Regions from separate parts of the Homo sapiens genome. Here region 2 is linked to region 1. Evidence: fine-mapped expression QTL. Tissue or cell type: tibial artery. Region 1 holds a variant in brackets; the other region holds the start of a gene. All regions are shown on one strand. Distances are between the middles of the regions.

What was found. PIP is the estimated chance that this variant, and not a neighbour inherited with it, causes the effect.
Region 2: it holds the start of MAPK10, and the variant in region 1 is the best candidate, but not a certain one, in a credible set for the expression of MAPK10 in tibial artery (GTEx, PIP 0.86).

The regions. Positions count from the first base shown.
Region 1 is chr4:86,461,127-86,467,378 of GRCh38, forward strand. It overlaps a transcript of MAPK10 not described here. Among named protein-coding and RNA genes, the nearest start is that of MIR4452, 78 kb to the right of the region's middle. The variant G/A (reference allele first, on the strand shown) is at 3,148.
Region 2 is chr4:86,356,939-86,363,190 of GRCh38, forward strand. MAPK10 (mitogen-activated protein kinase 10) reads right to left here and starts at 3,115. Exons shown (of 14, transcript NM_138982.4): 1 at 2,720-3,115.

The sequences.
Region 1 (6,252 bases):
TCTTTTTTTTTTTTGAAATATTTAAAGAGGTTTATTCTGAGCCAAATATGAGTGACCAAGGCCTGTGACAAAGCCCAAGGAGTTCCTGAGAAACTGTGCCCAAGGCGGTTGGTTTACAGCTTGGTTTTATACATTTGAGGAGGACAGAAGTTACAGGCAGACATCAATCCAGAAAGGCGGGACAACTTGAAGTGGATGGGGAAGGCACAGGGTCTGGAGGGGCTCCAAGTCACAGGTGGAGTCAAAGATTTTCTGATTGGCAGTTAGTTGAAATCATTAAGTTATTATCTAAAGACCTGGAATCAAGGCCGGGTGTGGTGGCTCACACCTGTAATTCCAGCACTTTGGGAGGCCAAGGTGGGTGGATCACTTCACCTGAGTATCTTAAGCAATCCCCATGGTGAGTAAGAAGGGGAGCTTGGAAGCATCAGGGTAACAATGGGACAACTGTGGGCTCTGGTTCATTCCATCTTGGAACCTTTTCACACTGATGATGAGGAGGAAGGAGAGTATAATGAAGTAACAGAAGAAGTAACAGAGCAGATTTGTTTGCCAGCTAAAGCTAAAGCGGCAAAGGAGGAAGAGGTTCATCCCTACCCTTCTGCATCCCCTCATTATTTTGAAGAAAAAGAGTGGCCTGACCCTCCAGATCTTTCTTTTCTGGAGGACACTGGGCAAAAAGTAGTTGCCCCAGTAACTGTTCGAGCAGCACCTTGAGTGACCACTCTCAGTTCTATTCAGGCAGGAATTCAGCAAGCTAAACGAAAGGATGATTTAGAGGCTTGGCAGTTCCCTGTTAGCATACACCCCCCAAATCAACAGGGAAATATAGCTACATTTGAGCCTTTTCCTTTTAAATTCAGGAAATGCCATGCAGGGCCCATCCTGGGCCCCGTTCCAAACTGGGGCATTTCCAGCTCAGGCCACTCCCTCACCCCTATACAATATTTGTCCCCCGCCACAGCGCCACAGCCAGTAGTACTGCAGTAGATTGATACTGCACAAAAGCTATGAGTCTTCTGCCTAGGGAACCCCCACAAAAGGTCCCAACAGGAGTCTGTGGACCCTTGCCAGCGGGGATGATAGGATTACTTCTAGGAAGGTCTAGTTTAAATTTAAAAGGGGTACAAGTACAAAGAGGAGTCATTGATTCACATTACAATGGGGATATTCAAATTGTTATATCTACTTCCGTTCCCTGGAAAACAGAGCCAGGAGAGCCTATAACACAGCTCCTGATTGTGCTGTATGTGGAAATGGGGAAAAGTGAAATTAAATGAACAGGAGGATTTGGAAGCACAAATCAATAAGGCAAAGCGGCTTATTGGGTGAATCAAATTCCTGATAAACATCCTACCTGTGAAATAACTATTCAAGGAAAGAAATTTGAAGGTTTGGTAGATACAGAAGCAGACATTTCAATCACTTCTCTACAGCACCAGCCGTCCACGTGGCCAATTCAACCCGCTCAATTTAATGTAGCTGGAGTTGGTAAAGCCCTTGAAGTATATCAAAGTAGTTATATTTTGCACTGTGAAGGGCCTGATGGACAACCTGGGAATATTCAACCAATTATAACTTCTGTACCTATAAATTTATGGGGAAGAGATTTATTACAACAATGGGGAGCACAAGTTCTAATTCTAGAACAGTTATATAGCCCTCAAAGTCAACATATGATGCATGAAATGGAATATGTCCCTGGTATGGGACTAGGAAAAAATTTGCAAGGTTTGAAGGAACTGCTTCAAGCAGAAAGACAAAGTTCCTGCCAAGGTTGAGGATATCATTTTTGATGGCAGCCATTGTTAAGCCTCCAGAATCTATACCTTTAAAATGGTTAACAGATAAGCCAATTTGGATAGAACAATGGCCACTAAGTAAAGAGAAACTGGAGACTTTGAAGGAATTAGTTAATGAACAATTAGAAAAAGGACACATAGCTCCAATATTTTCCCCTTGGAATTCTCCAGTTTTCGCAATTAAGAAAAAATCAGGTAAATGGAGAATGTTAACTGATTCAAGAGGCATTAATTCAGTTATACAACCTATGGGGACATTACAGCCAGAATTGCCTTCTCCTTCTATGATTACAAAAAATTGGCCTTTAATAGTCATGGATGTAAAAGATTGTTTCTTTACTATCCACTTAGCTGAGCAAGACTGTGAATGGTTTGCATTTACAATTCCTGCAGTAAACAACCTGCAGCCTGCTAAGTGTTATCATTGGAAAGTGTTGCCATAAGGCATATTAAACAGTTCAACAATTTGCCAGACTTATGTAGGGCAAGCAATTGAACCTACTCGTAAAAAATTTTCACAGTGTTACATTATTCATTATATGGATGATATACTTTGTGCTGCCTCCACTCAAGAAATATTACTCCAATGTTATGATCACTTGCAAAATTCAATTTCTCGTGCTGGCTTAATTATAGCTCCTGACAAAATTCAGACTGCTACTCCTTACTCCTACTTGGGGACCTTAGTAAATGATATTACCATTGTGCCACACAAAGTAGCCATATGTAGGGATCAATTGGAAACATTAAATGACTTTCAAAAATTACTAGGGGACATTAATTGGATATGACCTGCTCTAGGCATTCCTACCTATGCCATGAGTAATCTATTTTCTATCCTTAGAGGAGATCCTAGTCTCCCTAGCCTTGGCAATTAACAAAAGAAGCTCAGGCAGAGCTGCAGCTAATCAAAAAGCAAGTCCATAAAGCTCAAATAAATTGAATAGATCCAGAGAAGACTCTAGATTTGCTAATTTTTCCAACTCAGCATTCACCTACTAGTATTATTGTTCAAGAGCAAGATCTTGTAGAGTGGCTTTTTCTTCCACATACTAATTCACAGACTCTAACTCTTTATTTGGATCAAACCGTGACTATGATAGGAAATGGGAGAACTCAGATTGTTAAATTACATGGATATGATCCTGGAAAAATTATTGTCCCTCATGAAGGCACAAATACAGCAAGCTTTTATAAATAGTCTTACTCATTAAACCCATTTAGCTGACTTTGTGGGTATTCTCGATAACCATTTTCTTAAAACGAAACTGTTTCCATTTTTGAAATTAACTAATTGGATTTTCCCTAAAATAACTAATTTAAACCAATTGAAGGTGCTAAGAAT[G/A]TTTTTACAGATGGGTCTAGTAATGGTAAAGCTTCTTATTCTGGATCAAAAGGTAAAGTTTTCCAAATGCTCTATACTTCAGCTTAGCTGTAATTGAGGTATTCACTGCTTTTGATATGCCTATTAATGTGATTTCTGATTCTTCACACGTGGTTCATTCCACACAATTAATTGAAAATGCTCAGTTATGATTTCATACAGATGAACAACTGATGACTTTCTTTACTCAATTGCAAACAGCAGTTAAGAGTAGAATGCACCCTTTTTGCTGGGTGCAGTGGCTCATGCCTGTAATCCCAGCACTTTCGGATGCTGAGGCAGGCAGATCACGAGGTCAGGAGATCAAGACCATCCTGGCTAACACGGCGAAACCCCGTCTCTACTAAAGTACAAAAAATTAGCCAGGCATGGTGGCGGGCACCTCTAGTCCCAGCTCCTCAGGAGGCTGAGGCAGGAGAGTGGCGTGAACCCAGGAGGTGGCGCTTGCAGTGAGCCGAGATCATACCACTGCACTCCAGGCTGGGCAACAGAGCGAGACTCTGTCTCAAAAAAAAAAAAAGAATGCACCCTTTTTACATCACTCACATTAGGGCTCATACACCTCTTCCGGGACTTTTGACTGCAGGGAATCAAATGGCTAATCGCCTAGTTGCTAATGCAATATCTAATGCTAGACACTTTCACAATTTAACACACGTTAATGTCTCTGGTCTCAAACACAGATACAGCATTATCTGGAAAGAAGCTAAAGCTATTATCCAGCGATGCCCAACTTGTGAAATGGTACATTCCTCATCTTTTACAGGAGGAGTTAATCCTCGAGGATTGGAACCTAACTCTCTTTGGCAAATGGATGTCACACATGTTCCCTTGTTTGGGAGACTAGCTTATGTACATGTATGTGTGGACACCTTTTCTCACTTTGTCTGGACTACATGCCAATCAGGAGAGTCTTCTGCCTGTGTTAAATGTCACCTTTTGCAGTGTTTGGTGGTGATGGGCATTCCAGCTTCTATTAAAACAGATAATGCCCCAGACTATACTAGCCAAGCTCTAGCTACATTTTTCTCTGTATAGAATATTAAACACATTCCTGGTATCACATATAATTCTCAAGGGCAAGCCATAGTGGAAAGAATGAATCTCTCCCTGAAACAGCAGTTACAAAAACAAAAAAGGGGGAGAAATAGTGACTATGGGACATCCCAAATGCAACTGAATCTAGCATTAATAATTTTAAATTTTTTGAGCCTGCCGAAAGGCAAGATGCTATCAGAAGCTGAACAGCATCTACAGAAACCAGCTGCAAAGACAGAGGCAGAACAACTCATTTGGTGGAGAGATCCGATAACAAAAAGTTGGGAAATAGGTAAAATAATAACTTGGGGTAGAGGTTATGCTTGTGTTTCTCCAGGACCAAATCAACAGCCAATTTGGATATCATCAGGACACCTGAAACCTTATCATGAGCCAGATGCCGAGGAAGAGATTCCGGGAGGATCCTGAGGACCCCCCAGTTACAGCCATGTTGAGACTGACACTGAGAAGGACCCCAGCTGTCACGAGCAGCACCTGTCGAACACAGCCACCTACCTGGGGACAGATCAAGAAGCTGTCACAGATGGCGGAAGAAAACCTGAGGAAAGCGGGACAACCAGTCACAATGAGTAACTTAATGGTAGCTATGATAGCGGTGATCACCATTGCCATGAGTATTCCTTCAACAAGGGCTGACACAGAGAATAATTATACTTATTGGGCATATTTATCAATCTTGGCTGGCAATAATGCCTGGATGTAATCACTTTATGACAGTTACACATGCTTTCTGGTCTCAGTATTTACCATAATAAATCTACTCCTATAATTGAGGCATACCGCCCTCAAAAACTTATTTGTAAACAGGATTGGACCCAGTTAGAAATAATGAATGTACTTGTTTGGGAAGATTGAATTGCAGAACAGGCAGAGGTGCTGTGCAACGATTCCTATGGAATCATTATTGATTGGTCCCCTAAGGGGACATTTAGCTTAAATAGCACCTCTCAGTCTGCATGCCACGGCCACACTATGTTCAGCTGGTCTGAACAAAATGGTCAGATGGTAGAAATGGTAGGAAGTACAGCAAGAGTTCCTATTATCTGGAAACATAGCAGTATAGTGACACCTCAACCTCAAATGATATGGCCCGTTGTAGGCCACATGCTATATTTCTGTGTGTGTGTCTTTAATTTCTCTAGTGCCACTGGGTTAGGGTCTCCACAACCGAGCTTGTCTTGGCAGTGTAATTGATTAACTAAAAAAATAATAAAATTAGATCTCTATCTCATACCATACCCAAATATAGATTCCAGATAGGTCAAAAATACAAATGTAAAAATCAAGTCTTTCACAGAACATGTAGGAGAATCTTTTTTATGGCATTTGGTTAGGGAATTATTTCTTAAGCACAGCATGAAAAGCACACAGAACAAAAGAGGGTTTGGGACACCTAGTGTGGTTGATTGTACCCCTGTGAAAATATTTGCTGCCCCTCCCTCCCAGGCTAACCTGCGGGAGATTATATGCCCTCAGCCAAGGTCACTTGCTTCAGCAACAAAATGTGACTATAATGTGATATTGAAACAGAAGCTTTAAAAGCCCTCCTGTGGGTCTGTTGTCTCTCTTTTCTGTCACAAGACCACCATGTCCAAGATATGTGCTGCATCTTCAGCTGCAGTCCCTGGAGTGAAGATGATGTGGAACAGAGCCTGTCAACCCATGTGAATGTGAACAAGAAAATATGTCAGTTGCAGCAAACTCTGAAATTTGGGAGTTTTATGACCCTGGCGTGATTCAGCTTAAGTTGACTGAGATGATGGCTACATTCAAATTGTTAACCAAAAATTATAGAAGGCCACTGTATTGAAGCGGGCCTCACAGTAGGCCCCAACAGACCAAACCAAATCAGAATGGAGTCATTTGTGCCAAGTGTCGCATAATCAAATTGAATTCTTAAATTGTCCAGTTTTCACCAAAAACAAGAGATTCACAGCAACCAGTTAAAAGTGGTTGACTTTGCAGAGAAAGATAAGGAAATAAAATAGGTTGAGGGGTTTCACTGTG
Region 2 (6,252 bases), 100 kb before region 1:
ACTCAGCAGTCCTGCAGCAAATAGAGCATTGTACTCCATTCTTGTCACTACTGGACACTTCCGTGCCTCTTTCTGCATGATTGTTGCAATGTCCAACCAAAAGCTTAAAAGAGACTGTAAGAGGAAATAGAAAGGGCAATGAAGAAAGAATTTAAGACAACAATGTGTTTGCTTCTCATTCTAATTGAAGGAAGTCTCTCTTGCTTTGAGTCCTTTATTCTGATAAGCAACCAAGCAATCATTCGATTTGAACACACCAATTCCACTGAAAGTCCTTTGGCTACAAATGTGACCTGAGGCCAGAACTAGAGCATGAAGGGAGAACATCTATCCCCATATTTAACAAACAAGTAAATACCCAATTTGTCTTTAGCTTTTAGTATCAGTATAAAAAGAATTTATAACTAGGCTTACATCCAAAGAAACAGATTCATTTACATGAAACCACAATAAAACCTTAAAAATATATTTATGCCTTTAAACATGGGAGGTTTTTCTAGATTACTTAGGTTGGGCAAATTTGTTTTGCTTATGATGTTCCTGTAGGATATCCTAACAAGGAAAATCTTATTAATTTTCCTATAAATTTAAAATATCTACATTTTATAGCATTGACAATAAATTATCAGTTCATTCTAACCTTAGAATATATAGACCATGTACTATGAAACCATTAAATACTAATAGCTGCAGACATACCAGACAATGACAGCAAAAACACACTCAGCCCCTCTGGGATCTGTTCATAAACATCCCCTTCCAGCATGGCAAACACACTCCTCTCAACAGCAGATGCTGTTCTGGGGCTAGCAGGCAGGAAGCTGGAGGCAGCTGATTTTCCCACTCTACATATAATTTCTTACTGCCTCACTATCCAGAATCGTTTTACTGAAACTGTGAGGATTTTTTAAGAACAGGAGCCCCTCAAATTAAAGACACTTTGCAACAGCAGAGGAATGACAGGCAAATGAGGAAGCATGAAGACTCTCTAATATTTAAGGTCACACCACCTTTGTCATCTGATTTTCTAGTCCCATTGTAGGGGAGAGAAAACCCAGTTTGCTCCACATAAGAAAATAAGCTAATCCAATACTTTATGTCAATTTTAAGAGTGTGATCAAGGTAGAGAAGGAAATACATACCAGAGGCAGCCAAACCGCTACATCCAAAGCATCCAGCCCCTAAAATCTAATGGTTCTGAAGTGGAGTCAGAAGCTTGTGATATACTTATATATTTATTTGTTATATATTTGTAACATATATGCTCACCTAAAGTAGAAAATTCACAGAAGCTTCTCTGAGAGAAATGGTCCTTACTGCAACTATTTTAAATATGTTGATAAGCATTCTGTGTTATCTTCCAGGGTCCGACAACTAGCCGATGAGGGATAGAAGGAGATATTGGATGTTGTGCTGGCAATGCCTGGTGCACTTACACTCGTTTTCCTTCCACCTGAACTGTAGTCTATCCCATATGACTTAGCCTGCTTCCTTGCAGTTTGTTCATAAAAGTTATCATCAACATGGCCAGAAGCAGGCAGGGCTGCTGTACAGACACTGTCAGGCTCTGCACCAAAGGCAGCCCATGTAAACAACCTTGTGATTGCTTCAGAGCCTACTGCTGTGGCATAAGCCATTCTTTTTCTGTGGCTAAATTGCAGTACCCTGGGAAGTTATCTGTTTAAGGGGGTAAAAGCAGAGACTAGGTCTCTAGATTTAAATGTTTGGGGAGGGTGAGAAAAATATATGGATAGATAGTTTTCTTGTAATATCTATAGCCTGATTTACTTACAGATTTTCCAGTAAATTACATTTATTTTGTTGAAGGCACAAATACATAGATTCTAACAAATATACTGCCATACTTATTTCTGATTTTTTTTTCAAAAGAGCTCTGACATTTGCAGGGGACACAGTATCCCAGCACAGAATACCTGGGAATCTTGCCATGAAAAAAAGAAAGCTGACTGCTGTGACTAGGAGATCACTTTCTTAAAGGGACCCCTTACCTATTTGACTGCAGTGCCAATGTTTCCTCTTATCTCTAACCTGACCCCTGTTCTGTGTTCCTCTCCCCGGCTCAGATTTAGCCTAGAGTTGCTCTGCAAGAGTAACGCCAATAGTTTTATATCTAATATATATATAAATACTGTTCCTTAGTAAAATACATCTTAAAATATTTAAATTATACTTCTCACAAAAGTAAACATAAATACATACTAAAAGACATTATTTTTAATGTTTTATGGAACCCATCACATTTTTCAGATATGGAACTAAGGTCAGCACTTCTAACAAGCACAGCTGTTTGGTGTTTTTTTTTTCCTCTCTCTCTCTCTCTCTCTCTCTCTGTGTGTGTGTGTGTGTGTGTGTGTGTGTGTGTGTGTGTGTGTTTCTCTCTCTCTCCCTTCCCTTCTGTAGCCCTGCATTGGTCTAAAAACCCCTGGTCACAATAAGAATGCTCCCTCCCTCCCTCTGCTACCCCTCACTCCAAATGGAAAGGTTTCAACACGCCCAAGTCTGGAAAGAGATGTTCTGCACAGAGGGAAAAACTGGTAGCTTCTTGCTTCAAAGCTAGTTCACTTGATTAACCTGCTTTCCACCCCACCTCTCTCGTCTCTTCCATACTCCCTCTCCCGCCCCACCAGGAGCAATCAATAGACATCACCCCACCCTCCAAAAACAGGTTAGAACCCAGAACGAGCAAAGAGCCACCTACCATTCCGTGCCTGAGAACTACGATCCTGATCCGGCAGTGTTTGCCCCAGAAATCCTCCCTACTTGTTTTTCATTAACCACATTCCAGACTAACATGGAAGAGATTCTTTGGAGATATGGAGATTGTTTAAAATTAACGATGGACAGGTGATTTCCAAGAAAACCCAATCTTAAACTCACTCAAGCCCCTAGGAATTGAGGGGTGAGGACAAAAAAGGAAATTTGTAAAAATGAAAAAAGAAAAGAAAAAGGTAAGCATATAGCAAGCACCACCCACCCCCATAAAAATAAAAAGTGAAGGGGAGGTTAAAGAAAATAGAAGAAGAGTGGCTTGCTGAATCACCCTCTTTCACTGCCTGGAAACCATTGTGCAGCGTGATGCTGCCTGTACCATTGTGGAACCTACCAGAGGAGACGGACAGAGGGCTTGGGGAATGGGGTTGCTATGGCAACCGAAAGGAGCACACATGACGTCAAAGCCCAGAGAGGTCTAGGGAGGGGGATGAGGGGGAAACAGAAAGAGGAAGCGTCTATGTGCAGCTACAGCTACTGTGTTTTCCGGTGAAATGAGGACCAGGCAAATGTAAAGGAATAAGGTTCGTCGGCAGCCAACATCAGCAACTACGACATCAAGGCAGCCAGCCTGCACAACCTGAAGAAAAGATCCATTCGATGCAGTTCTGGCCCTTTGCACAGCAGCACGGAGGAGCAAATACCAGCAGAGCAAAACACCACTGGAAATGCAACCTCTGCTTTTCAACTATCTCTTGTAGTATCTCTAAACGTCAAACAAGTAAGAGATGGTAATAACCTCAGAGGAGAAGCAGGCATTTGAGTGTCGCCTGAACCCCGAGGTCATCTGCACAGCACTATTCCTCTTCTCTGTTTCCTTGTTTTTGTAAAAATCCTGAATAAATATCCACTAAACCAAATTCAACAGACTAATACTTAGGTTGCAATCTGAGTGTACAAAGAAAATACTGATTAATTTGAGTTAACACATCAGAATTCTTTTTTTTTTAATTGCAGATAATTTTCTAGAGAACTGATGAAAATTGTACTGTTACTATTTGGGGCAAATATCGCAATTTTATTTCAGTAATTTGCTCTGCCTTTAACTGTTATAGGGTATTTTTAAAGTCTCCAAACAGTTTTACTATCCATAAATAATAGTTTCTTAGAATGACAACAGTTGACTACTTGCACTATAAAAAAAAATTAGGTTTACCAAATTTGTTTTACCTTTTTTATGTAAGAAAAATTTTCAATACAAATTTCGCTTAAACCAACTCCAGCCTTTGGACTTCTCAAATTACGTAATCTAATTCAATTCCTTTTTTGCTTACACTCTTTTGAGGTGGGTTTCTGTTTATTGCTACCAAGTAGTGCTGAGTTGTAAATGATTCCACATTATGTTTTAGAACTAGCATACTTATATGAATATGAAGCTTCTTCCATATGTTACCAGAAAGATACAACATGCAAGAGATGCAAACTCAGCAGTACTGTAGACACTGAAACACATCATAAAGCTGTAAGAAACGCATACGTTTTTGTTGTCTTTGTTGTTGCTGCTGTTGTTTTATTTGGGGAGAAAATTTAGAAAAAGGAAGGCTTGAGTGAGTTGTATGTCATTGTAGTTCATTGGATAAGTGTTTGGATGTCCCTTTACTCTAATTTCAATTTCAACAAGAATCAATCAAGACTATCTTCTAGTCTTCTCAATGGGCCTACCTGCAAGATAACTACCTCATGCAAAAATATGGATTGATAGCCAAACAACTTTATAACACAAAATAATTGGCATTCTGGCTTTTGAGGTATTATATACTAAGTTTGGACATCAAAAGTCAGTTCCCCAATCCCATGGAAATTAAATCAGTTTGTCGAAGAGATGTCTGCATTCCCATATTTATTGCAGCACTATTCTAATAGCCATGGAAACAACTTAAGTGTCCATCAACAGATGAATGTATATATATTATGCATACCACACACAAACACACATACACACACACACACACATGCTGGAATACTATTCAGACTTATAAGAACAGGAAATTCTGTCATTTGCAACAACATAGATGAACCTAGAGGACATTATGCTAAGTGAAATAAGCCAGGCACAGTGAGACAAATACCATATAATCTCACTTATATGTGAAATTTTAAAAAGGACAAACTTGTAAAACTAGAAAGTAGAATGGTGGTTACCAGTGGCTGGAGGACGGAAAGGTGGACAGGGAAAGGGGGGACATTGGTTAATAGGTACAAAGTTTCAGTTAGAAAGGAGAAATAAGCTCTGGTGTACTATTGCACAGCACAGTGACTATAGTTAATAATAATGTTGCCTATTTCAAAATAGCTAAAAGAGAGGATTTCAAAAGTTCTTACTACAAAGAAATGATAAATATTTGAGGTGACAGATAATGAGCCTGATTTGATCATTCTACAATGTATACATGTATCAAAACATCACATTATACCCCATAAATATATACAATTATTGTCAATTACAAATAAAATAAAACAATTTTTTAAAAGTGAATGTCCAGTAACGTAACATGAATGAGGAAAAAAGGAACGCCATCTCTTACCTTACATTGTGAACACAAATATTTATTCAAGATGAATTGTACACCTCAACATAAAAGCTAAAATATATAACACTATTAAAATATAATATAACTTTTTTTAAAGATGGCTTTCTGACCTTGCAGTAGGCAAAGATTTCTTAGGATACAGAAAGCACTTACCATAAAAAAAAAAAAGAGACTTCATCAAAATTAAAAGCTTCCACTTATCCTAAGTCACCATTAAGAAAATGAATAGGCAAGCCAGAGTCTAGATGATACATATATCTGAATACTCTTGATAGCTGAAAATATTCTGATACACACAAATCCTAGATTATAGAAAACATGTCCTACAATTCAATAATAAACATGAACAAACAATTTTGTTTAATGGGCAAAAGACTCTGACAGGCATTTGACAAAGGAAAATTTATAAATGGCCAATAAGCATATGAAAAAGTATTATATATCATTAGTCAGCAGAAATATACAAATTAAAACCAAAGTGAGATACCATTTCATGCCCACAAAAGTGACTAAAATTAAAAAGACTAACATCATCACATATTGACAAGGACATGGAAAACCAGAACTCTCCTACATATATTGGTAGGAGTACAAAATGTTAAAACTACCTTGGGAAATTTTGGTAGTTTTTATAATTATAAACCTACACCCAAAGTATGGCTCAACACTCCTATTTATAAGGATTCACCCAAGACAATGGAAACCTACGTCTACCAAAAAAAAGTTGGACATAAATGTTTATGCTAGCTTTGCTTATAATAAGCAAAAGCAGGAACAACTCCAAATATATCAACTAGACAGCAGATAATTATGATATACAGTCAGCCCTCCATGTTCATGGGTTCCACATCTGTAGATTCAAAAACTGAAGATCAAAAATATTAGGGGAAAAAGAATAAAAGATAACACACAGAGATAAATAAATACAAAT